Linked DNA regions of Homo sapiens. The protein of the gene in region 1 purifies or fractionates together with the protein of each later gene. This does not show direct contact. Each region holds a gene or a part of one and is shown in the gene's direction. Other genes may lie near its edges.

Evidence for each region.
Region 2: the proteins of ROBO1 (region 1) and SSTR2 purify together in Homo sapiens (co-immunoprecipitation; one large-scale study listed by IntAct). This does not show direct contact.
Region 3: the proteins of ROBO1 (region 1) and ANKRD22 purify together in Homo sapiens (co-immunoprecipitation; one large-scale study listed by IntAct). This does not show direct contact.
Region 4: the proteins of ROBO1 (region 1) and ARPP19 fractionate together in Homo sapiens (co-fractionation; one large-scale study listed by BioGRID). This does not show direct contact.

What each region holds. Positions count from the first base shown.
Region 1 is NC_000003.12:78,664,624-78,670,905, reverse strand, and holds part of ROBO1 (roundabout homolog 1 isoform a precursor), read left to right. Parts: intron 1-604; coding exon 605-810; intron 811-2,340; coding exon 2,341-2,422; intron 2,423-2,603; coding exon 2,604-2,772; intron 2,773-2,856; coding exon 2,857-3,023; intron 3,024-6,282. UniProt on the Homo sapiens protein: Receptor for SLIT1 and SLIT2 that mediates cellular responses to molecular guidance cues in cellular migration, including axonal navigation at the ventral midline of the neural tube and projection of axons to different regions during neuronal development.
Region 2 is NC_000017.11:73,166,920-73,173,201, forward strand, and holds part of SSTR2 (somatostatin receptor type 2), read left to right. Parts: intron 1-2,308; 5' UTR 2,309-2,400; coding exon 2,401-3,510; 3' UTR 3,511-6,282.
Region 3 is NC_000010.11:88,840,960-88,847,241, reverse strand, and holds part of ANKRD22 (ankyrin repeat domain-containing protein 22), read left to right. Parts: intron 1-6,282.
Region 4 is NC_000015.10:52,553,868-52,560,149, reverse strand, and holds part of ARPP19 (cAMP-regulated phosphoprotein 19), read left to right. Parts: intron 1-2,927; coding exon 2,928-3,050; intron 3,051-6,282. UniProt on the Homo sapiens protein: Protein phosphatase inhibitor that specifically inhibits protein phosphatase 2A (PP2A) during mitosis. Inhibition of PP2A is enhanced when ARPP19 is phosphorylated.

The sequences.
Region 1 (6,282 bases):
GGGTAATTTTCTCCCATGTATATTGTAATAGAAAGAATTACAAGATAAAAAGACACAGGGAACTCAATCACACTGATTTATTAAATTACGAAATCCAATGCACTTTTTTGGATCCAAAATTGTTAAACATGCTGGTATGGTACCTTGTTTCTTTTTTTCTGTTGTACAAGTTATGAAATGTCAATTTGGCTTTGCTTCATTTATTAAAATTTATCTCATATGTTTCCTTGAGAGGAATGGTCTTTTTGTTATGTTGTGTTTTTTCATGTTTTTGAGTTTAAAAAGTACAGTATTCCATGATCACGTCTCTGTATCTACTTCACCATCCACAATCCTAATTCCCGAACTCTTTAAATAGGCCTCTTGACGATGCAGCCAGCTCAGTGAGTGGCTGGTCATTTGAAAGTAGCACATTGTGTCTCATTTTAGTATTCTGAATCAGTGCATCATATAAATGCATTTTGAATAATGCATGTCTGCTACTTTAATTACTTGTTTAATTATCTTTAGTTTGTTTCAAAGCCTAGAACAACTGCTGTTGCTTGGATGATTAGAAAATTGCTTCCAGTTGCAGAAATCTATTTCCTGTTGTTTCTTCTGGCAGTGATTGCAGATCGGCCTCCCCCAGTTATTCGACAAGGTCCTGTGAATCAGACTGTAGCCGTGGATGGCACTTTCGTCCTCAGCTGTGTGGCCACAGGCAGTCCAGTGCCCACCATTCTGTGGAGAAAGGATGGAGTCCTCGTTTCAACCCAAGACTCTCGAATCAAACAGTTGGAGAATGGAGTACTGCAGATCCGATATGCTAAGGTAACTTGGAATGGCACCTTGCGTTTCTTGTTTTGTTTCACTTTGTTTCTGCCTCCAACAACTGGCATTGAAATTTCTAACTTTGCAATTAATGAAGTGTTAAATGAAGAGTAGTAATATATTTTTAATTTGATGTTTTATTTTTTTCAGATATTTCATTGTATATGTTTGAGATGATTTAACTCATAATTTAGTCCATGGCAGGTAATTTAAGGTTGTATGGAGGAGAAGAAAGGATTTCTAAGAACCTACCGAGGAAAGTAAATGAGGGTTTGTGAGAGAATAAATATCTTCAAAGTAGTGGTACGAAGCAGTCCTTCCATAAAGCATCTTTTAAGATATTTACCTGTATCATTTTATGTGCAATATATTTAGATAGTTCTTCTATTGTAAGTGTTTGTTTCAGCATTTTGCAATGGCAAAACTATACATGCAAACAAAAGCCATAAAGCAATGTACACACCGAGTGTACAATTCAAATCAGAATGCTCAATGATGGAAAGCCCACAGGTCTGTAGGAACCATTTAAGGATTTACTTTCACAGGGCATCATATCCCATGCCTGCTCTTTCAGGACTTTATTGTTTTGATTTTTCTTCTTTTTTTATGTCAAGATCAGACGAGCTCCTGAGGCATATGAAAGAATAGTCCTGACAGCAATAAACATGAATTTCAGTTGCTTTATCTCCTAGTGTGGGTGGTTCCTTTGGAGTATTGGATCAGCATCACAGTTCACTTTAAGTGCCACAACAGTTAATATGTTGTGCTGCTTTGTGACTGTTGTGACTTGGTTCCTGCAATTGCCAGGGCAAGATGACAACATTCTTTCTTTATCAAATGTTACTTGAAGATAGTTATTAGCTTGAGCAGAAGTAGATGGGTTTATTATCCTGCTGCTGATTTCAAAGTTGAACATGTAACCTATGTTTGCCTTCTGACATTCAGTTTTTAAAAGGGAGCGAGAGTGTTCGTTCCAGCTTGAGTTTGGCTTTGTACTTCTTAAACTGCCTTAAGTTACAAGTTTTAAAACCCGGAAAAGTCAGTAGTTTAAGAAAAAAATTCTATGATGCCTATCCTTTTTCTGTTGATCTCATATATCCATATAGTTAAATATATAAGTAAAATATGAAATAGCAAGAATAGGCATTGGTTAAACTTTATCAGCCTTATTATATAACTTATTAAACATAAAGATATATCTTAGCCATAAATATTAACGCTCTAAATTTGAAGAATTGTATGCCTTACCTTAGGAATTATTGTCCCTGAGACTGATGATAATATATGCTAATGCAATTAAATATTTCTTATTATACCATTAGAACAATCATATAAAATCTTTTTTTCTATATTGATGTAATATTTTCCTTCACATTCAATAAAAATATATTCAACTAAGGGGAAGTTTCTGGTTAGTGAATTTTAATGCAGTTATCCATATTCATGGATCATATACAAACCTGTAATTGCTTTTCCAGCCCAGTGAGTTCTTGATTTTTCCAAATATTTATTTTTTGTCTGCCTTCTCAGCTGGGTGATACTGGTCGGTACACCTGCATTGCATCAACCCCCAGTGGTGAAGCAACATGGAGTGCTTACATTGAAGTTCAAGGTAAAGTAAATGGTGTGTTTCCCTTAAAGTGAAGCTTAAAATGCAGTTGTTTACTTACTGGGATATTGATGAAGTAAATGTCCTCTTCCCTGAGTAGGTGTATGAATATGTTATCTGCATTTATCCGCTTATCTGTGTATGTGTAAACATCTTTTATTTTGGCCTTTTTCCTGCTTTTTAGAATTTGGAGTTCCAGTTCAGCCTCCAAGACCTACTGACCCAAATTTAATCCCTAGTGCCCCATCAAAACCTGAAGTGACAGATGTCAGCAGAAATACAGTCACATTATCGTGGCAACCAAATTTGAATTCAGGAGCAACTCCAACATCTTATATTATAGAAGCCTTCAGGTAGAGTGAAGGAGATGCTTCCTAGTTGTTCTTTTTTGATTCTCCATTAAATACGCATGTTCTAACCTGTGTGTCTATCCTTAGCCATGCATCTGGTAGCAGCTGGCAGACCGTAGCAGAGAATGTGAAAACAGAAACATCTGCCATTAAAGGACTCAAACCTAATGCAATTTACCTTTTCCTTGTGAGGGCAGCTAATGCATATGGAATTAGTGATCCAAGCCAAATATCAGATCCAGTGAAAACACAAGGTAAATATTGATTTACTTAAACCTGTGACACCTACTTATCCTTAGATGTTATAATTGCACTGACAAATCACTTGTGCTACATGCTAGAATTGTACATTTACAGTGTGTTGTTCAAGTTGCCCAAGTTGCTTAATTAATTTTTAATATACAAACACAATGTCTACAAACTTTATTATTTTCTGGACTAAGCATACCAACATAAGATGGATTAACAAAGAGAACTGTTTCTCATAAAATTACAAATATATCAAGACAAAAATATTACGTGAGGAGATGGAAAGTAGAATGATGGTTACCAGAGGCTGGGAAGGGTAGTAGGGTGGCTGTGGGGAGGGTGGGGATGGTTAACGGGTACAAAAAAAAGAATAGTTAGATCTAATGAATAAGATCTAGTATTAGATAGCAACAAGGTGACTGCAGTCAATAATAATTTATTGTACATTTTTAAATAAAGTATAACTGGAATGTTTGTAACACAAACAAAGGATAAATGATTGAGGTGATAGATACCCCATTTACCCTGATGTGATTATTATGCCCTGTATGCCTATATCAAAATACCTCATGTACCCATAAATATATACACCTGTTAGTACCCATAAATTTTAAAAATATGTGAATATTTGTGTATTCTATTCAATTTCCTGAATTTTAAATATGGTAACATGTAGGTGTACAATCTTAATCATATTATAATTGTATTTAAAATTAACCAAATTTTATTTATTTATAAGTTCAGTACTCACAACCTTCTGGATGAATTTTTAGATTACAACCCTAATCAAATAATACTCTCTTGAGATCACATAAATATGAGAGATATCTGGATACCTTTTATTTTTGGAAAAAAATCACGTCATTGTAAATAAAATGTGCTTGTTTTTATATTAGTAAAGAAAGGTAATTCTAGAGGGGAGTGATTCGAACTATAAAATTATTTTCTCAACATACAGAGGGATAGTGTTTCTATCTTAAGGGAACAAAGGAAAAAAGAAAAAAAAATAGACTTGGTTATTTTAATAGAAACAAGTTATACACAAGATGACTGAGACTTAAAGTCCTTTGCTGCTGGTTTGGGAGAGGGGTCTGCCAGCCATGTTGCTGTTTTGTTACTTCAAGTATGTACAGAAACAGTCTTTTTGGAAGCACTTTTTGTTTCAGAATTTGCAGAAAAAGCACACCAAGTTGTAGAACATGCCCACGTTTGTCTCTTGTGTGAATGTAACACACCCATAGCTCATATTTGCTATTATGAATCACCTCTCCAGGAGCTTTACTATACTTGCAGCCTGCCTTAAGGCAGTCTGAGGTTTTTGATATTAGATACACATTTGTAAAGAATGTAGACCCAATGATAGCTATAAAATGAATTTAAACTTTTGTCCCCAGTACAGTGGTCTCCAGCCAGTAGACTCTAACTGAAAGGTTTTGATGACTAGAGCTTAACACCGTTTTGTCCTGTACTCACATGCATGATTCTGGAATATGTAACCTCATTTGTAAGTGAGCAGTAAGTTAGCATTCTGTCTGAACATTCATTTAGTCTTTTTAACATTTCTGTCAATTTGCCTTTGCATATGCATAGCTAGTGGAACAATGTATTAGTCTCTTCTCACGCTGCTAATAAAGAACTTCCCCGAGACTGGGCAGTTTATAAAGGAAAGAGGTTTAATTGACTCACAGTTCAGCATGGCTGGGGAAGCCTCAGAAAACTTACAATCATGGCAGAAGGGGAAAGAAACACGTCCCGGTTCACATGGTGGCAGCAAGAGGTGCCGAGCAAAAGTGAGCAAAGCCCCTTATAAAACCATCGGGTCTCCTGAGAACTCACTCACTATCACGAGAACAGCAGCACGGGGTAACTACTCCATGATTCAGTTACCTCCTACCGAGACCCTCCCGTGACACATGGGGATTAGGAGAACTACAGTTCAAGATGAGATTTGGGTGAGGACACAGCCAAACCACATCACTCTAAGTATAATGAATCCTTGTTAACTGGAATACTGGAAATATAGAGAAACAGGCATACAGTTGTGAAATCAAAGACTTTTTTTTTTTAAATTTCAGCTCCTCAATCCACTAGCTGTGTGACCTTGAGCAAGCTAGTCAGCCCTTCTGAGTTTCCTCACCTATAAAATGGGGCTAAACATACCCATTCCTCGGGATTGGACAAAGAATACATTAACCAATCAATATATAAGTATATAAGATTCAGATTTGTTTTCTGTTTTATCCCATAAAATCTGTTATTGGACTTGTATTTCTTTTAGTGTCAGGACTAAAAGTAAAGGAAGTTCATAAAATTTGTGGATGTCGTAAAACTGAGAAAGACAGCTAGTATGCCAAATAAGAGAATCAGAATTAAATATAACTCAACAGATTGGACTGATGGGAGAGTGCTAACTATTAAAGTTAATAGAGCAAATTAAAAAGTCTGGTACTTGAACTTGGGTTTAAAAAATTAGCTGTAAAAGGATAGACTAAAGACAGCAGGCTTACGGGAAGTATATGTGAGTGTGTCAGGGCTTTCGGAGTGATCTGACTTTAAAATAAAACACCCATCTGAACCGACTGACGGATACAGTTGCCAAGAGAACAAATGTAGTCTTAGCTGGCACTAGAATTATGCCTGGATCAAGTAATTTTTCTCTTTTTACTTAGAACTATTCAGTTCATGAATGGAGTAATGTGTTTGTTCTGGAGACTACATTTTCAGATGGACTTTTAAGAGGAGGACAGTAGGGATAGTCGATGAGGCCGCATGAAAGGCTGAAAATCACATCATATGAAAAGACATTCAAGGATCTAGGTATGATTAGGCCAGAAAATAATAACATCAGAGCAGACATGACATCTTTTCCTTAACATTTTAAGAGACTGCCGTATGGAAGAGTTATGCTTATTCTAGCTCGAGGCAACAGAAAAGGGCCCATGAGAAGAAGTAAAATTGAGGCACATATCTTGCCTATTCTTGGACTTCATTTGAGGCTGGAAGCCTTGGATTATAACTGTAATAAGAACCTGGGGAATCACCTGCAAAAATATTTCACTGGAGGGACCAGAAGGCAAACACAGCAAGGAGAAAAATGAGGGGTGAGGAAATTCAAGAAGGACTTGTTGGAAAGTGATTCATAAGGGAGCAGGCATAATTTCTCTAACCATTTCTGCAATGTGGTTGCAAAAGAATCTTCCCCAAGTGTAGATACTTAGAAATGAGCTGGGGTCAAAAGCTAAAGGTGCACAGATATAGGGCACA
Region 2 (6,282 bases), on another chromosome or scaffold:
TCATACTCCCTGCACCATCATCGTTCCTAGCCCAAAAGCTCTTAGACAGGGGCTCTGCCAACCCAGGGGGATTCCGTGTTACTCAGACATTGGAGTGTGACCATTCATGTTATATAGATGGGCCCCTGGAAATCCCCATGATAAGGTACACTCTGATTGCAGGCAGCTTGAATAGGATTCTGGCTCTGTAGAATTAAACCAACTGACCAGATGGTTAGAAGTGATAACGAAACTACCCAAGTTAATCCAGGGATACTAACCACAGTTTCTGTACAGCTTCTGTTTTAATTGCTGCCAGTCTATGCTTTTTTACGCAATGCAGACATGAAATTCCAGGTGCCTCAAATACTTCACAAAATGGTCAGCCACAAAGCCCAGATCTCACTTCACAGACAGTTGTGTGGTAGGGAAATGAGCACAGAAGGAACGAGCAATGCACCTGGCAGTTCAGAATCAATCAGAAGCAAAGGTGAGCAAGGATCCTCAAGTACTTGTTGCTGGCCAAGTCTCCTTTAACTGATCTGCAGTCTTTCCAAGGATTAAGAAGTAATCTTCCATCTACACCCAGGCACCAGGAAAAGGACCTAGCTCAGGGGAAATGTGTCAGCCAAGTGAATTAGTCCCACTCTGCTGAACACACCACCCTTTGAACATCTCGCCTCTTCCTAGATTGGCCTCTTTGCTGTCCTCCTGCTTCACTCTTCATATACCCAAGACCCAGCTCAAACACTTCTCTTTGGAAGCCTCCTCTGAGTCCCCCAGGAAAGGAAGGCATTCTTAAGTCCTTCATTTATCTCTCGTGCAATGCCCACCCTATATGAGCTGGCTTCCTTTCCTATCTCCCCTTTTAAATTATCACCTCCTAGAGGGCACTGGCCAAGTTTGTTCATTTCTACATCCCTGCTGTCAGCACAAAGAAGCCTCCTCTCCAGGCCCCCAACCCCCGTGATATTTTTTGAATGGCTGTATATCAATCATTTAATTATGGGATGAACTATTGTTTTAGATCTTAAGCCAAGCCAATAGTGCTCCAATTATTTTCTCAGCAAGGAAGTAACACAGGAGTCAGTTGCTTCAAACCAAAGCCCAGTTATCAGCCGTTCGGTCTCTAGGCCACTGAGGAGCAGAGGGGATGCCTTGAGACGTGCAAAAGACTTGGGGCCAGGTGGCCTGTGTTCACATCCCAGCTCCACCAATTATGTGCAAGAGAATGGGGTGAGCTCCTTAAACTCTCTTAAGCCTCAGTTTCCACATCTCTAAAATGGGGGTAATTATCCCTACCACCTAGGACAGTTGGGGAGATCAAGGGACTCGTGAGTGTGAATGAATTATATCAGTACTGGAAGCCTTCTGCTTACTTCTGTGAAAGAGCTTGTGTCCCACACCTGCTTCCCGTTTTTGTCCGTAATTAGAAAATGGCAGGCAAATTCTCTGGAGTGTTACAGCACTTGGGAGCAGCATCCCCTTAGGGACTTTGGGAAAGAGCTCTTGAGGAAGTCAAGCATTAGGTATTGGAAAACAAAAATAGAAGAAAAACAAAAAATAAACTGAAGCCTACATTTCAAAAATGAAAGCAAACCAGACTTTTATTTTTAATACTGAAGACTATAAATTGTTTCACCACGTAGGTAGATTTCAATAAATCAGAGATAATGAGATGGTAGAGGAAAACATGGGGGGAAACAACTTACGAGGTTCCCATTATGAGCCCAACGCAAGGCTAGGCATTTTCACATATATTCCATCATTTAACCTTCATGACGCCCCCATGTGAAGAAATAAGAGTCAGAACCATTAAGGACCAGGCATGTGGTCACACGGGCTCAGCAGTGGAACCCGGTTTGTTCTGCCTCTAGAGTCTGGGTTTTTTCCACTATGGCATTTTCAGAATGGAAAGACTCCAAGGCAGTCAGCAAGTCAGCATAGATTTCCTGGTAGGGAAGAGGCCAGGAATGTCAGTGTCAGACCCTTCTGAGGTCAGGCGCTGAACTTCTCCAAGCTCTGCCTTTCTGCAGTTTAGATCAGTCAACTTCTTAGGGGTCAAAGTATGTGCTTTTTGAAGCCACAGCCCTCCCCGACATGTGCGTCAGCAGATGATGGCTGAACCCAAACCCTTCCCTACTATTGGAAAAACAACTCAAAAAGTCTGCACACTGATGAGGAACTCTAGAGCTTAATGTTGATGTGGAAAGATAATACATTTTTCAATTTAAGAGTATGTCTGAGAGGCTAAACCAGAAATGTGTAAATTTGGTGAGACTTTAAACAGCCTGTGACCGACGGGCCAATCTTCCTCTTTTCCTTCCAGATGTCACACTGGATCCTTGGCCTCCAGGGTCCATTAAGGTGAGAATAAGATCTCTGGGCTGGCTGGAACTAGCCTAAGACTGAAAAGCAGCCATGGACATGGCGGATGAGCCACTCAATGGAAGCCACACATGGCTATCCATTCCATTTGACCTCAATGGCTCTGTGGTGTCAACCAACACCTCAAACCAGACAGAGCCGTACTATGACCTGACAAGCAATGCAGTCCTCACATTCATCTATTTTGTGGTCTGCATCATTGGGTTGTGTGGCAACACACTTGTCATTTATGTCATCCTCCGCTATGCCAAGATGAAGACCATCACCAACATTTACATCCTCAACCTGGCCATCGCAGATGAGCTCTTCATGCTGGGTCTGCCTTTCTTGGCTATGCAGGTGGCTCTGGTCCACTGGCCCTTTGGCAAGGCCATTTGCCGGGTGGTCATGACTGTGGATGGCATCAATCAGTTCACCAGCATCTTCTGCCTGACAGTCATGAGCATCGACCGATACCTGGCTGTGGTCCACCCCATCAAGTCGGCCAAGTGGAGGAGACCCCGGACGGCCAAGATGATCACCATGGCTGTGTGGGGAGTCTCTCTGCTGGTCATCTTGCCCATCATGATATATGCTGGGCTCCGGAGCAACCAGTGGGGGAGAAGCAGCTGCACCATCAACTGGCCAGGTGAATCTGGGGCTTGGTACACAGGGTTCATCATCTACACTTTCATTCTGGGGTTCCTGGTACCCCTCACCATCATCTGTCTTTGCTACCTGTTCATTATCATCAAGGTGAAGTCCTCTGGAATCCGAGTGGGCTCCTCTAAGAGGAAGAAGTCTGAGAAGAAGGTCACCCGAATGGTGTCCATCGTGGTGGCTGTCTTCATCTTCTGCTGGCTTCCCTTCTACATATTCAACGTTTCTTCCGTCTCCATGGCCATCAGCCCCACCCCAGCCCTTAAAGGCATGTTTGACTTTGTGGTGGTCCTCACCTATGCTAACAGCTGTGCCAACCCTATCCTATATGCCTTCTTGTCTGACAACTTCAAGAAGAGCTTCCAGAATGTCCTCTGCTTGGTCAAGGTGAGCGGCACAGATGATGGGGAGCGGAGTGACAGTAAGCAGGACAAATCCCGGCTGAATGAGACCACGGAGACCCAGAGGACCCTCCTCAATGGAGACCTCCAAACCAGTATCTGAACTGCTTGGGGGGTGGGAAAGAACCAAGCCATGCTCTGTCTACTGGCAATGGGCTCCCTACCCACACTGGCTTCCTGCCTCCCACCCCTCACACCTGGCTTCTAGAATAGAGGATTGCTCAGCATGAGTCCAATTCAGAGAACGGTGTTTGAGTCAGCTTGTCTGATTGAATGATAATGTGCTAAATTGATTACCTCCCCCTTAAAGCGAACACTGAAATGCAGGTAGACAATTCAAAGTCTGGAGAAGAGGGATCATGCCTGGATATGATCTTTAGAAACAACAAAAATAGAAAAAAATAAGTATCTGTGTGTTTGTGTATTGAAAACTCAATATGTAATCTTGTGTTTTTATATGTATACTTGTATATTCCTATTTATTCTCTGTATAGGCATTACCTACGTTCCTGTGTTTACATACACAAGTAGCAAATTCGAGTATGCATAGTGTAGATGGACATTTGCCACAACACACTGCCCGCAGAAATGGACTTACCGTGAAGCCAATAAAGTTCAAGCTTCAGGGATCTCTCTTGCACGGGCCTTGCCAAGGCCCAGGAGGGACTTGGGCAGTATGTTCATGTGGTCATATGTTTTTGTAAAAAATTGTGAAAGTAAGATATGTTTGTATTGTTTTTCTTAAAGAGGAACCTCGTATAAGCTTCAAGCCTCACAAACCTTCTAGCCTCTGCCCTTGGGGATTTGCTTCATTAATTTCAGGCAAGTGAGGTCAATGTAAGAAGGGAAAGGGAGAAGATATTTGAAGAACCAGAATGTAAATTCATGTGTTTCCACTTCTCAGATATAGTCAGAGAATTATTCATTTGCCCAAAAGGACTTAAGTGGTTGTGGTCATCCATCATTGTATTTATCAAGACAAAGCCAACTTTGTTATAAGATTGCATTTTTTTCTTTTCAAATTGCTTTAGTTTTTCTTAGGGAGCTATGAGGGGGAAAAATCACTAACATGAAAGGCAAAAAATGGACTATGATTCCTGTGGGGAAACAATTTCATTCTCTCCATCGTGAAAATAAGTGAATAAGAGTGAAGCAAAATTACACCTTTATGAGAAACCATAAAATTGTTTTTATTTTTCAGGCCAGACATAGCTTCCTAATGAAAGAAAATGGAAATGTAATTCGACGACTCCTCAAAGGGGACTTTAGAGGACTTCATACAAAGCTGGGCATTAAGAAAACCACAATGCATGGCCGGGCGTGGTGGCTTACACCTGTAATCCCAGCACTTTGGGAGGCCGAGGTGGGTGGATCACCCGAGGTCAGGAGTTCGAGACCAGCCTGGCCAACATGGTGAAACCCCATCACTACTAAAAATATGTAAATTAGTCGGGCGTGGTGTCACGTGCCTGTAATCCTAGCTGCTCGGGAGGCTGAGGCAGGAGAATCACTTGAACTTGGGAGGTGGAGGTTGCAGTAAGCTGAGATTGTGCCACTGCACTCTAGCCTGAGCAACAAGAGCAAAACTCAGTCTCAAAAAAAAAAAAAAAAAAAAAAAAAAAAAAAAAAAAGGAAAACCACAATGCGTACTAAAGACCAGAAGACATTGTTCACAAAACAAAAGCACCCTCACCTGCCAATGAATATGCAGCGTGCAGGGGGTGTGGTGTGAGTGTTGGTGGGGCCCCACCTCTCGGAGATACTGCTGTGCTGCCTTCCTCACTGACTGTATACATAGTAACTGTCATATCTTTAATGCCATGGACTCACTGAGCCGCTCTGCAAGGACTATTGTAGACAGGCACTTCACACCATAAAGTGGCATTTTTTTCGTTCCCCAAACTGACATTTACAAGCGATAAGAAAAGAGACAATATCCATTTCATTGACTGATCATTTTCTAGAGTATGAAGAAATACACACCTGGGTGTCTGCAAGGATGTCATCATCTTTGGGTTTCATCTGAGAGCATCACTCAGCATCTCACACATAGATGTTACCATATTTTTAAATGAGCTTTCCTCATCCGGCTCCCTAAGCAAGCGCTGTTGGCCGGTGGGAGTGACTAAGTGCTCCACCTGTGGGTGTCCTTCTTAATGTGCTGCTTTTGTTCTGTATAAATTCACACCACCTCACTCCCAAAAGTACTTCCTGTGGCTCAGAAAAATATGTTCAATAAGATTTTGGATAGATAAATCCATACAAAAATAAAAAGAGGTATAGTTATAAAACAAGACTACAGAAAAAGTTGTGGCAGAAATTGCATGCAGGAAAATCCCACACCATTAGTAAAAGTAAGGTCAACTGTAAGTTCAGCTCAGGGCTTCCTAGCAGCCATGTTTAGCGAAGTGTGATTTTTTTTTTTAAACAAAAACAAGCAAAGATTTGGAAGAAAATGCTTTAGACCTAACTTTACAATTATTATAACATAAGATGTTCCAGGGTCCTTGAATAAATGCTGAGTTTTAGGGAAATGATTCCAAGGGACCAAGAATTGGTAGAAATAATTTCAAGGCAGAGAAGACTAATTCTACAGGCCGGGCGTGGTGGCTTATGCCTGTAATCCCACACTTTGGGAGGCTGAGGTGGGTGGATTGCCTGAGGTCAAGAGTTCAAGACCAGCCTGGCCAACATGGTGAAACCCTGTCTCTACTAAAAATACAAAAAATTACCCAGGCATGGTGGCGGGCGCCTGTAATCCCAGCTACTTGGGAGGCTGAGACAGGAGAATGGCTTGAACCCAGGAGGTGGAGATTGCGGTGAGCTGAGATCGTGCCATTGCACTCCAGCCTGGGCAACAAGAGCGAAACTTCAT
Region 3 (6,282 bases), on another chromosome or scaffold:
AATGACCACCATATATGACTCAAAGAAATAGAAGGATAAACTGTTTAAGTCCTATGCTGAAGTTAATGAAAAATGTAAAAAAACATTCCACAAAGCTACAAATGAAGATCCCAATTGTGTATTGAGAAAGTGGATCCATCAGTATCACAAAGAACACATGCCACTTAATGGTATGCTGATCATGAAACAGGAAAAGATCTATCACGATGAACTGAAAATTTAAAAGAACTGCGAATATGCGTAGTTCTTTGGCATAAATTTAAGAAAAAACATGGCATTAAATTTTCAAATATTTGTAGTGACGAAACATCTGCTGATCAGAAAGCAGCAGAGAAATTTATTGATGAGTTTGCCAAGATCATCACTGATAAAAATTCTCACACTAGATCAAGTCTATAGTGCTGATGAAACATCACTGTTTTGGCATTATTGCTTCAGAAAGACACTGACTTCAGCCGATGAGACAGGCCTTGTGGGCAATCAGGATACCAAGGACAGGATAATTGCGCTGGGATGTGCTAATGCAGCAGGCACACACAAATGTAAACCTGCTGTAATAGGCAAAAGCTTGAATTCTCACTATTTTCAAAGAGTAAATTTCTTACTAGTCCATTATCATGCTAACAAAAGGCATGGGTCACCAGGGACATCTTTTGTGATTGTTTTCACAACATTTTGTAGCAATGGCTCATGCTCACTGCAGGGAAGCTGGACTGGATGAAGGCTGCAAGATTTTGTTATTCCTTGACAACTTTTATGCTTATTCTTCAGCTAAAATTCTCATCAAAAGTAATACTTATTCCATGTGCTTTTCCCCAAATGTGACTTTATTAATTTAGCCATGTGAGAATGGTGTCCTTAGATCAATCAGTGTAAATATAAAACATTTTCGTAAACAGTATGTTATCAGCAGTGAACATAGGTGTGGGTGTTTCGCATAAAGGATGTTGTATATGCTGTTGCCAATGCTTGTAATGCAGTAACTAAAGACAGTTGTGCATACCTGGCATAACCTCTGTCCTGCAACTATGTTCAGTAAGTATTATAAATAAAGTGACTTTGAATGATTCTGTATGTCAAATGAGAAAAAAAAAAGATGTCTGACCATACATACGCAAAAAAAAGTACCTTCAGAGTCCACCAGTAAGTTGGAAGAAGTTGATATTGAAGAAATTTTTAACACTGATAATGAGGCTCCAGTTGTTCATTTATTAACCAATGGTGAAATAGCTGAAATGGTTCTGAATCAAGATGATTGTGATAATAGCAATAATGACGATGGTGGTTAACACTGTAAAGACTTTGTCAGGGGCCAGATCAGGCAGGTCTTGTAGGCCAAGGTGAAAAATTTAGATTTTATGCAAAACACAATGGAAAGCGGGTAAAGGATCTTAAGAGAGGAATAATATGACCATTAGGGTTTAAAAAGGCCACTCTGGTAGCATGGGAGAATAAATTTGAGAGATGCCAGAGGGAAAGCTGGATCTTGGAAGGAAGCTGTTACAGTAGTTTATGGAGTGATAATGATGGTTGCATTAGACTAATGGGTGAATTTTAGATAAATTTTTAACTAAAAGATTTCCTGGTTTGTAGGTTGGCAGTGAAGGAAAGTAAGAAATTAAAGTTGATACTCAGTATTCTGCCTTAGGCCAGCCAGTGGATGGTGGTGCTGATGAGATGGGAACACTCAGAGAGGGGCAGAAGGAAAGACACATTTCAGGGTTCTATTTGGACATGGTACTTTAGCGATATCCATGAGACATCTAGGTGGGGATGGAAGATGAATACAGGAAATGTACCTTTAAGGAGAGGCTCGGGCAAGAGATAATAATTTAGGAGTTGTCTGCATATACATGGTATTTAACGCCAAGAGAAGGGATGAGTTTAGACATGGAAAGAATGTAGAGATAGCAAAGGATACCAGGTCATTGTAGGAAGGTATGGTCTTGCCAGAGAAGGAAGGCAATATTAAAGGACAACCTCCTTTGAGCACCCTTGGAGCTTGTAACACTCAAGAAACATACGCATTTAGTCAAACAGGAGATTTTCTGGGGTTGAGGGGGAAACACATTTTTCTTTATTCAACATTGAAAACTTAGGGAGTTTCAACTTTTGTATGTGAAGTGAGCTGATCAGCACCAAAAGTGGTGAGGAGAAGTGAGTTTCTCAAGTTTTGTAAGAGGACAGGACAAGACAAAAACAGCTTGTGCCCCAGAAGTTCTCCTTGTCTAAGAGCCCACAGCAGGAATGTATAATTGTTAAGAAGCCAGCTAAGAAGCCAGCTGTTGAGCTCAGAAAGACAGGTTCAAAGCTCATCTCCACTATTATCAAGGAGAAAGTGGGAGAGAAAAAAATCCCCGAATAAACTTGTTTTCTAAGGGGAAAAATAAGTCATTTTATTTGTATATGCCTTCTACAATATAAGCTTTTATTTCATATATGTGTGCATATCTATTGAAATAACAAATAATTTTCAGCTAGAAAAATTGTGGCTTTTTTTTAATCAACTAAGGAAATCCCACTTGTAATTTTAAAGGAAATCTAGATTATCTGAGATGAGATAAGAAGGCATAAAAGGGATCTTTTACTTTTAACCATAAAGATTCCTTAGATTCTAAACAATAATTACTTTAATTAAAAATCTGTAATGTTTACTTATGTTATAGAAACAGCTCTTGATACATAGCTCCCCTAATCTTAAAGTTATTAAGATTAGAAATACCTTTTTTGGAAAACTGAAAAAGAGATGAGAATGGGAGGCGTTTACTATTTGGAAACCCATAAAGTACTATTTAATACAACAAAATGGTTTACATACTAATTAACTGGGAAGTCTTAACACTAACTTTCTAAACTGAAGGTAGATTTTGTCAAAACTCTGCTAACATTTCCCATCAAACATAAAATAAAATTCAAAGTCCTAACCATGGTCTACGAGACCCAATTTTCCTTGGTCCCATTTGCTTCCCAAATTTCCCGCCACTCCCCTTGCTCATGCAGCCATGCTGACCTTCCTGCTATTCCTAGAACACATCAAATCGAGCTCTTGTCTCAAAGGGCTTGACAGTTGGATTCCCTTTGTCTGGAAGTTTCTTCCTCCTGAAAGTTACCTGGCTCATTCCTTCACTTAAGACAGATCATGGATCTCTGCTTGAATCTCACCTTCAAGAGATCTAAAAGAGTGGCTTTGTCATTCTTTATGTATTCTCTTACTGTGCTTTACTGAAGTATTATAATTTTTAAAAATGTCGGGTTTGTTAGATGAAAGTGGATTTGAGAGTCCTATGTGTTATGATTTTTATGATTCCCAGTTTGCAGGTTGCCGAAGAGAAAGGTATAATGATAGCTTCCCTGACCTAAATGTCGGTTTAATAAACATGTGTCTATCTTGTAGAAAATAATATAGTAGGTTATGTGAGAGTTACAAGAATGTAAGAATAAAACATTTGTTTTCTCCAAAGAATTTACTGCAGTCATAAGGCCAGACACAAATAATTCTCCCAATGAAATCCCTTGTGGGAAATTCTTGATGTTAGTTGATTTCTAATTTGCCACAACTCAACTTTCCTGCCTTTAATGGTCAAATTTATTTTAATTGGACTTTATAGTAATAACCAAAAACTTACTTGTTACACTGAAATAATACAACTAATCCTGGAACCCTAAAGTCCACACCCTTTTTTAGCTAATTGGTGCCACTAAAGTAAACAATTTTGAAAAATGAAAAAGATGCTAATTGCCTTGATGCACCATCAGACCACATGAATCTTCAGAATCAAGCAAGCATTTCTGCAAAGGCAACGTTTTCTCCCAACATGCTTAAGATTAGGCGTGATGAGGATTTGAAAGGGGATTTTAGCACTATGGTTTTGTGGCTTTACCAACAGTTGACCTTTGGCAGGTATCAAGATCATATTATGCTTAAAACAAGGTGGGATGAGGTCTTTCAGCAACCTCAGGACTTCCCGTTTCTATATATGTGAATGAGAATTTCTTCCGCCACAGAATATTCAAGACACAAGGAATTGGAGGTAAGAGTTGATTTTAGGAAAAGGAGGTGAAGTAGATGGCAGGCAAGAGAAGAAGCTTTTATAGAGAAGCCTTCCTTGAGAAAAGTAAATGAAGATGAGGTCAAGAAACAGTGGCTTCAGAGCTGCACGCTAATGGAAGTCAGCCCCTACCTGGGAAGTAGTGGTAATTTCTGGGACATAAAATCAGAAAGTCATCATACATTTGAATGAAGGACCAGAGAGGAAAAAAATAATTGTCTTCAGTATTAGTATGATCCAAAATGGAGTAAAAACTATTTGCAAATATATTATTGAAACTGCAAATCACAGTAGACCTATAAAATTTCCTGTAAGCAAGAATTGGCAAGTAACAATTCATAACACTATGTCTATTATTACCACATTACAATGTGTGAAATGTTACTGATATTTTTTTCCTGTCATTATTTTTCCAAGTATGTGAAACATTTATAGTTGTTTTTATAGGTTCACTTACATGCTAGTCCTCTAATCCAAATTCTTTAACTGAATTTAAGGGGATTTTAGTAATTTTGTTAACTCTGCAGATGCTTGGGAAGGTTTGTCGTATAACATGATACAGAATGTGATGAATGCTATTATGTACCTCTTGTGAGTATCTACTGGGTTTTCATCATCTCTGTATCCCTAGAGCCTAGCACAGTTCTCTTGGAAAGTATTGAGATCTCAAAGTCTGTTGAATTGAATTGAAGAAAATAATCAAGGACTATAGGCACTCCTGGAACTTTTGTGGGTAGAGTTTATTATAAATTAGTGCATGGAGTTGCATAGGAGTGGAGAGAGGCTTAATGGGTTAAAACACTGGTTCTGGAGTTAGATAGACCAGAGTATAAATTCTAGTTATGCTACTCACTAGCTATAAAGAGCTCTGAGCCTGTTTTCTCATCTGTAAAGAGGGATAATATTATTTTTGTTCTAAGATTGCTGTAAGGGTTAAATGAGATGCTGCTAAGGTGCTTAGCATTACAGATGGTATATAAAAAGAGTTCAGTATATAGTAGGTATTATTACTGTGAAACTTTTTACTGTTATTTTTTATTTTTCCCAAAGGAGACTTACATTTAGAGATTTAGTGCTAAAATACCTGTTTAGGTCCATTAAATGTTTAGAGACATTGGCTGCTGAGAGTTCAAATCCTGGGCCCTTCCCCAGCCAAACTGTCTTCTACGTTAAGAATAAGACAGTGTAGAAAAGTCTTGGGATGTCAAAAGGTAAAATGAGGCACGGTTAAGCTCAAAAGAATTTATTTGAGCAAATACCGATTCAGGAATTGGACAGCTGTGGTTTGCAGGCTTTTTGGAGGGAATGCAAGGAGAAGGCTTTTATAGGGTGAAAAAGGGAGTAAAGCACAGAAAATATTTGATTGGTTGCAGTTATAGAGTTGCTTTATTTGGTCGATTCTGCTGGAAAGTCTCTATGTAAGTTAGGCTTCTGATTAGTTAACTTGGTTTCATTTTTCTTTAATATAGGGATTTATAAGAAATAGCTGAAGTTAAGTTTTGCTTATGTTTGCAAATTGAGCAAGGTTAAGGTCACTTATGAGGTCTAAATGGATTTGTCTGGCCCAGAGATTCTTCAAGCCTGGTCTCCATTATAACTTACTTTAACGGAAATATATGCCAGTTCCTGTTGCTGGTGTATTGGAGCAGGCTGGAGCTGGCTTGAGTCAGCTTGAACTGGTTTGTGAAAGCCAATTTTGCTCAACTCTGAGTTCGTTGCTCTCTCTTTTGTAGGTTGAAACTAGCCAGGTGGGAGTGGTTACACCAATGAAATGGAAGAAGACCACAAAGGTTTTCTTTCTTTCTTTTTTTTTCTCTTACTCCCTCCTTTTGTAGAACTGGATGTTACCTAGTTATGGGCACCCTACTGCCTTCTCTCTTCTCTGTGAATACCTCTGTGGTGGTCTGAGGTAGTAGGGGAATATCAGGGCTTCTGATTTGCCATTTTCTAGCAGCCAGAACCCACTCTTCCTCCACCCTTACTCCTCGCTGGAGGTGAAGGATCTTCTGCTTTCCCCTGGTCCTCATGACCTCAGAGTTTCTGATGTCCTGGAGTCAGAAGTGTGGCAATGGGGTTTTTTTAGCTTCCTGGCAAGGAACATAACTTCATGTTCTCAAACAGACCTTTCAGGATAAAGAGTAGAAAACATAGATCAATATGTGCCCTGCTTCTATTTCCCCTTCTGCTATCGTTCATGAGGAACTATGACTTCTCTACACGTTCCAGCCAGTGG
Region 4 (6,282 bases), on another chromosome or scaffold:
CAAGGTATTTTCCTTTATATATCAAATGGAGGAAACCTGCAGAAACACTGGAAACCAGAGTAAGTTGCTACCTACATACAATTTTCCTTTAAAAATTTTTAAGGAATTCGGGGAACTATTAGACTTGGAGAACTATTTCAAATCAAAGGAAGAAGTGGAGAGCTCTCACTTCCTAGGCTCAAGAAAGCTGAATTTTTATTGGAAATGTAGGACTCCAGTAACACCCTTAATTTGAAGGTGCAGGGACTAAAGGGTGACAATTAGCTTGGGATCCTTTTCAGCCAAAATTATTTGAAGCCAGCTGTGCAGGGAAACCCAAGAGTAGGCCTCTCCTCCCACATCCACTTCTAAACTGCAGCACTGAGAACACCCTTGGGCTGCAGTAGATATCTGCAGTGAGGGCTGAGCCACATCGAAGCTGTGCAGTGACTCAGCCCGCCTTCCTACATTAAACTTGGTAATCTTACATTTATGTTTATTTCTCTGGCTTTGGTGATGAATATGGTATAGTCATATCTTACATGGGGTTAGGTTCTAATGTTAGTAAGGGAAAAAAATCACATATAGCTAAAATCACCCTTGACAAAATTCTAGAGAAGGCATAATCATATTGGAGACTGCCCCATCAATTCTCAGTAGAGCAGGTAGTCACTTTTATGTCCAGCGTTTGAACAGATGGCTAGATGGCTAGGGTGATTCTTAAGTTGAGTGCTAGCTAAGGTAATAGGCTTGTATTGTACGGGCTGAGATTTTAAACACTGCAATGATAAACAGCATGTTGATGTACTTATGCTCTGCAAGATACCCAACGAGAGACTAACGTGGGAATGGCAGGTTTGCATCACATACCTCACACTTACCTCTCTGGAGCATACCCTTCTTGAATGGAATGACTGGTAGACTCACCACTATTTAAATTCTCTATTTCTGGCTAAGTGCACATAATTGAATGTCGTGCATGTCAAGTGAGTGAATGACGTGGCCACTGTAAAGAGATAACATAAATGGATGAATCTGCAACATAAAAAGAGGCTCCACAGAAAACAGTATTTGACAGAAGCAGCTTTTTTCTCAAAATTCTCCGAGACTGAAAATGAGAAGATCTAACAACAAATGAAGAAGCAGTTCAGGATGAAATACTGATAATATATAAAGTGAATGAAGCTGATTATAAAACATGTATGAGAGCTGGATGTGGTGGTGCATGCCTATAATCCCAGCACATTGGGAGGCTGAGGTGAGAGGATAGCTTTGAGGCCAGGAGTTCAAGACCAGTTTGGGCAATATGGCCTGACCTGTAATTTTTTCCCCCCCGTGGGTACAAAGGGAAGGGAAACAGGATCTTCATCTTTTTTTTTTTTTTTTAATGTATGAATATAATTTTGAGTGAAATATATGCCAAAATTTTATGAAGTTTTTTTTTCTTTCAGTGCTTAGATAGATAAATGGTTTGCTTGCTATATAAGAACATAGGTTTGACATTTATGGATTTAACATTCCTGCTTTGACTATTCCTAAGTAACCTGGAAGGCTCAAGATAGGCAGAGGTATGTGATTTTGCTGATTTAATGTGCAGAAATGAGTCCATTACTTAGAAAATGTGCCTTGCCAGCTGCCCGGTTTATCTATCTCAGTACAGCTTTTTCTCTTTCTCTTTTTCTTTCTTTTTTTTTTTTTTTCTGTTTTGTTTTGAGACAAGTTCTCGCTAGACCTGGGTATGCACCCAGGCTAGAGTGCAGTGGTGTGATCATGACTCACTGCAGCCTCAACCTTCCATGCTTAAGCAGTCATTTTGCCTCAGCCTTTTGAGTAGCTGGAACCACAGACATGTACCATCATGCCCGGCTAATTTTTAAACTTTTTTACAAAGGTTGGGTTTTGTCCATATTGCCCAGGCTGGTCTCGAACTACTAGCTTCAAGCAATCCGCCCACAGCTCCCAAAGTGTTGGGATTACAGGAGTGAGCCACCGTGCCCAGTCTGTTTTTCTTGATTAATTCTTCTGCAGTACTTGCCATGAAGTAATAAACACTCCTTCCCTATTAAATATAGCACTTTGAAAGAAAGCAGACTAAATCAAGACTGTTGTTCAAAGTGAATAGATGGAAGAATTGATAGTTCTGTCAGGAAACAGGTTTTTGATATATTAAAGAATAGGATGTTTGACATGAACAGAGTTTGTCATTTTAAACATGGGGGAGAGTTAGGCAATGATATACATAGATGTGAGGATTGACAAAAATGATGTTTCTCTTCTTTAAAAATAACAGGATGGGCCAGGCATGGTGGGTCATGCCTGTAATCCTATGACTTTGGGAGGTCGAGGCAGGATTGTTTGAGCCCAGGAGTTCAAGACCAGCCTAGGCAATATAGCAAGACCCCATCTCTATTATTTAAAATAATAAAAATATTAAAAATTTATTATAAAAAAACAAATATCAGGATCATCTGTATTCAAGAAAAATGTACTGATAAGTAGGCTGCTGTTAATTTCTAGTAAAGAATCTAACTTCAAATCATACATAATTTTAGATAAATAGAAAAAATTCTGTATATTTTAACAGTATTAGGATGATTCTCTAAATATAGGCAAAGAACTGAAGAGTTCCATAGAAGGTGACTAACTATAAATGTATTATACATGACTGGAAAAGTAATGGCAAGCAAGACTTCAGAGCTGAGCTATCTTGATATTTTTATCCAGTGTGTGGGGTGTTACACATGCATCACAGCTATAATAGAGCTATCACATGGATCTTTTGAAAAACAAGATAGAGATGTTTTAAAGGCTTCTGGGTTTGATTTCTTAGTCAGATGCTGTGGTACTTGGCATTTAACAACTAGAATTCAGAATCCAGATTTTTAAAGGTGAATTATTTTAAATAACTGAGTTGTAATAGAGAAGTAATTTATTTGAAATTATTTTAGGAAATGGAAGATAAAGTGACTAGTCCAGAGAAAGCAGAAGAAGCAAAATTAAAAGCAAGATATCCTCATCTGGGACAAAAGCCTGGAGGTTCAGATTTCTTAAGGAAACGGTTGCAGAAAGGGGTAAGTTCTCATGGGTAATTTCCAAATACTTAAGCCCTACAAACTCAGTATGCTGACAGATTGTGAAACGGATATCTGTGCGTATAGCATTGTACTTTATCAGGTATGTACATATGTGTATATGTATCTGTAATGGGTTTTTCCAATATTTTGCAGTTTATAAATAAGCATTGTGAGAATCTACAACTCTTCAGCATTTTTAATAATAAACTATTTAAAGCATGTAGAAATAGTGCAGATATAACAGAACCCATATACCCCTTCCCAGATTTAATGTTTATATTTTGCCATGTTGGTTTCAGTTTTATCTTTCTTAAGAAAGAAAATGTTGTAGATACTGTTGAAACCCACCCTATATGTAAATATGAGCCCTTTCCCTTATCTCTCCAAAAGCAGCCACTATCCAGAAGCTGGTGTTTATCCTTCTGCCCATATTTTGAAACTTCCATATTTTTTGCAGGTGATTCCCACACAACATTCAAAAGCTTAAAATACTTATTTGGATGAAATGATCACTTAATAAATGCACAGCTATCTCCTTTATGTAATATGTTTCACAGTCAGATTTACTCTAATACAATTTAAACATTTTCATTTTCATAGTTCAAATTACTGAAGATATTATTTTCAAATTCTTGCCATGTTTTGCGAGGTAGATACCATTATTTCTCAATAATGAGATTGAGATAATGCTGGCCTGTTTGTTCCCTAAGTATTGTCCTGTGACCCCTTCCTTTGCTGTAAAAAATTAGAGAGTTCCATCTTCAGCTTAAGCATATTCAAATTACTTACTATACAGGGAAGGATGAAATACTACTTACGGAAGAGAATTGTTGAATGAGATGCTAAATCATGTTTCTCCTTAAATACATTCATATACTGATATCGGCTCCTTGCTTAAAACACGTCTGTGTGTGTATTAGCTCTAGGTACATATGGATTGTTTTAAAGTGGCAAAAAATAGAATGGTATTTTTAATCTTACATGAAAGAATAATATTCACAGCTTTGAAATACTAGGATGATGGAATAATGACACCAAATTTATGAAGATGTAAAACTCCCGTACCATGAAATATATAATCAAGTAGGGAAGTTATTACAAAAATGTTAGTTAATGTCTAAAATACATACAGAAACTTTTAAATATATGAAAGGGAACTTTTAAGTGTACAAGAAAAACACTTAAGGTGCTCCTGGATAAAGGATTTTAACAGGAAATATAAAAAACAGAGAAATGTTTATATATTATAGACATCAGTGAAATGCAAATTACATCATAGTATTTATATAACTAAATTGCAAAAATGTTTAAAATAATACCTATTGCTAAGGTTGAAGTTGAATGAAACTAATATGCTCTTTGTTGTGTTTAAACATTAAAAATTATTACTCGTTTCAGAACAGGGTATGGATTAAGGTTTATAAAAATGTTCTTCAAATCAATAATCTCTTATTTATTAATCTAAGAGTATAATTCAGTACAAGGAAAGTCTTCCAAGTTGGAAGGTCCTCCTTATAGCTTATAACTATAATTAGTAGCAGCACCACTATTCAACAGCAGAGAAATGATTAAATAAATTGAAGTAAGTCAATAAAATAGTATTATGTGGTTATTTTAGAACATAAAGATCATAATATAGGGGATAAATAGAAGAAGTAGAATGACAACTGTGTTTTTAGTTATGAGATAAATTATTTAATCTTTGGCTATTAAATTATTTTGATTTGATTATTGTTTAGGAAATATTTTCTTTGCTAATCTCCAGCATAACCTTGGCTAATAGGCTTTCTTCCAACATTGGGCCAATTGTCACTGTAATTTTTCTCTAGCTTGAACTATTTATTTTTAAGTATCTTCAAGTCAGATTTCATATACATTGTATCTTGGAGTTGGTGTTGTAGATATAAATAGTTGAGAATGAAGAAAATGCTACTGAATCAAGAAATAAGTAGATAGAATTTGAGAAGTGAGCTCTTTAATGATTCTGTATTATAACAGAATGTCAGTGAATAAGTTATTTTATATGAAGTTTTGATTTTTTTTAAAACTCTGGATCACAGGTTCTGGGTTTTAATTTTCCTCTATCACTAGTTAGCAAACTTGACAAATTACCTTAGCATCTTTAAGTAGCTTCTTAATTTGAGAAGGTTTGATTAGATATTATGATTATTATAATAGGTCTCTTCTTGTGTTGTACTCATTAATGTTATTATGAGGTTAATGTTATTATTAGGCTTTTAACAATATGACTGTGTACACATGACTACATAGATTATCAGAGCTGGGAGGGATATCAAGAAGCTGTGTGGCCTGTTTTTACATTTTTTATTTCTTTTTGCTTTTTGTTTTGTTTTTTCATATTTGTAGGGGTTGTGAAGTCCCTAGAAAACAGAGAATCCAGTTGTAAGAAACATGGCTTTAAAGTTGAACATTACCACTTTAGGTGATCACTTAGTGTCAGTGTAGTTGTAAATGCTGATGTAAGTATGGCCCATAAATTTGTGTGAGAGGAGGCTTTTATAAGATTGTCATCTAGATCATAATTAATTTTTAAATATTTTCATTACAAACTCATGAAATTTAGAGATTGTTAAAGACATATCATCATCGTTGTTATCTGTGGATCCCAATTTGATAAACATTAGTTCACTTCTCTATCTTAAAGCATTAGCTTCTTTCTCTGACATCTTTGTTGTTTTATTGTCTTTGCTGAATCTCTGCCTTTTGCAGTAACCTTTTCCTTTTTAGGGCAATTCTAATTGTCAGGCATTGATTTTAGTTTTATCTCTAGTCACACTAAATTTAATTCCTTTCCCCCAAGCAGAGTAGCCTAATCTACAGTTAATTGAGACCCCCTTGTGATGAACTTTTGCTTACTATAAAATTACTTACATTAGAAACTGCGTTTATTACATAGGGGGAAAATCTGCCTAAAATTTACATGTGTGTTAAATTTCTCAGTATGTGCTTCTGACAAAATAAGAAATTTGGCAGGCTGCTTTGTTCTCCTCTAGAGGCTACAAAATTCAGAAATAGCTTTTTAATATATTACAGTGCATCACAATTCTGAGGTTTTTCTGTCTGCTCATTTTAAAACATACAGAAGTGAAGCTGCAGAAAGCTTTAGATGGGCCTGTTCCAGGGTTCCTTGTTACTGTTCCGTATGGTACATATACAGTAATACATTAAAGCAGTTTCTGTCTTTAGGCCTTTGGGCCATAGACCAGGT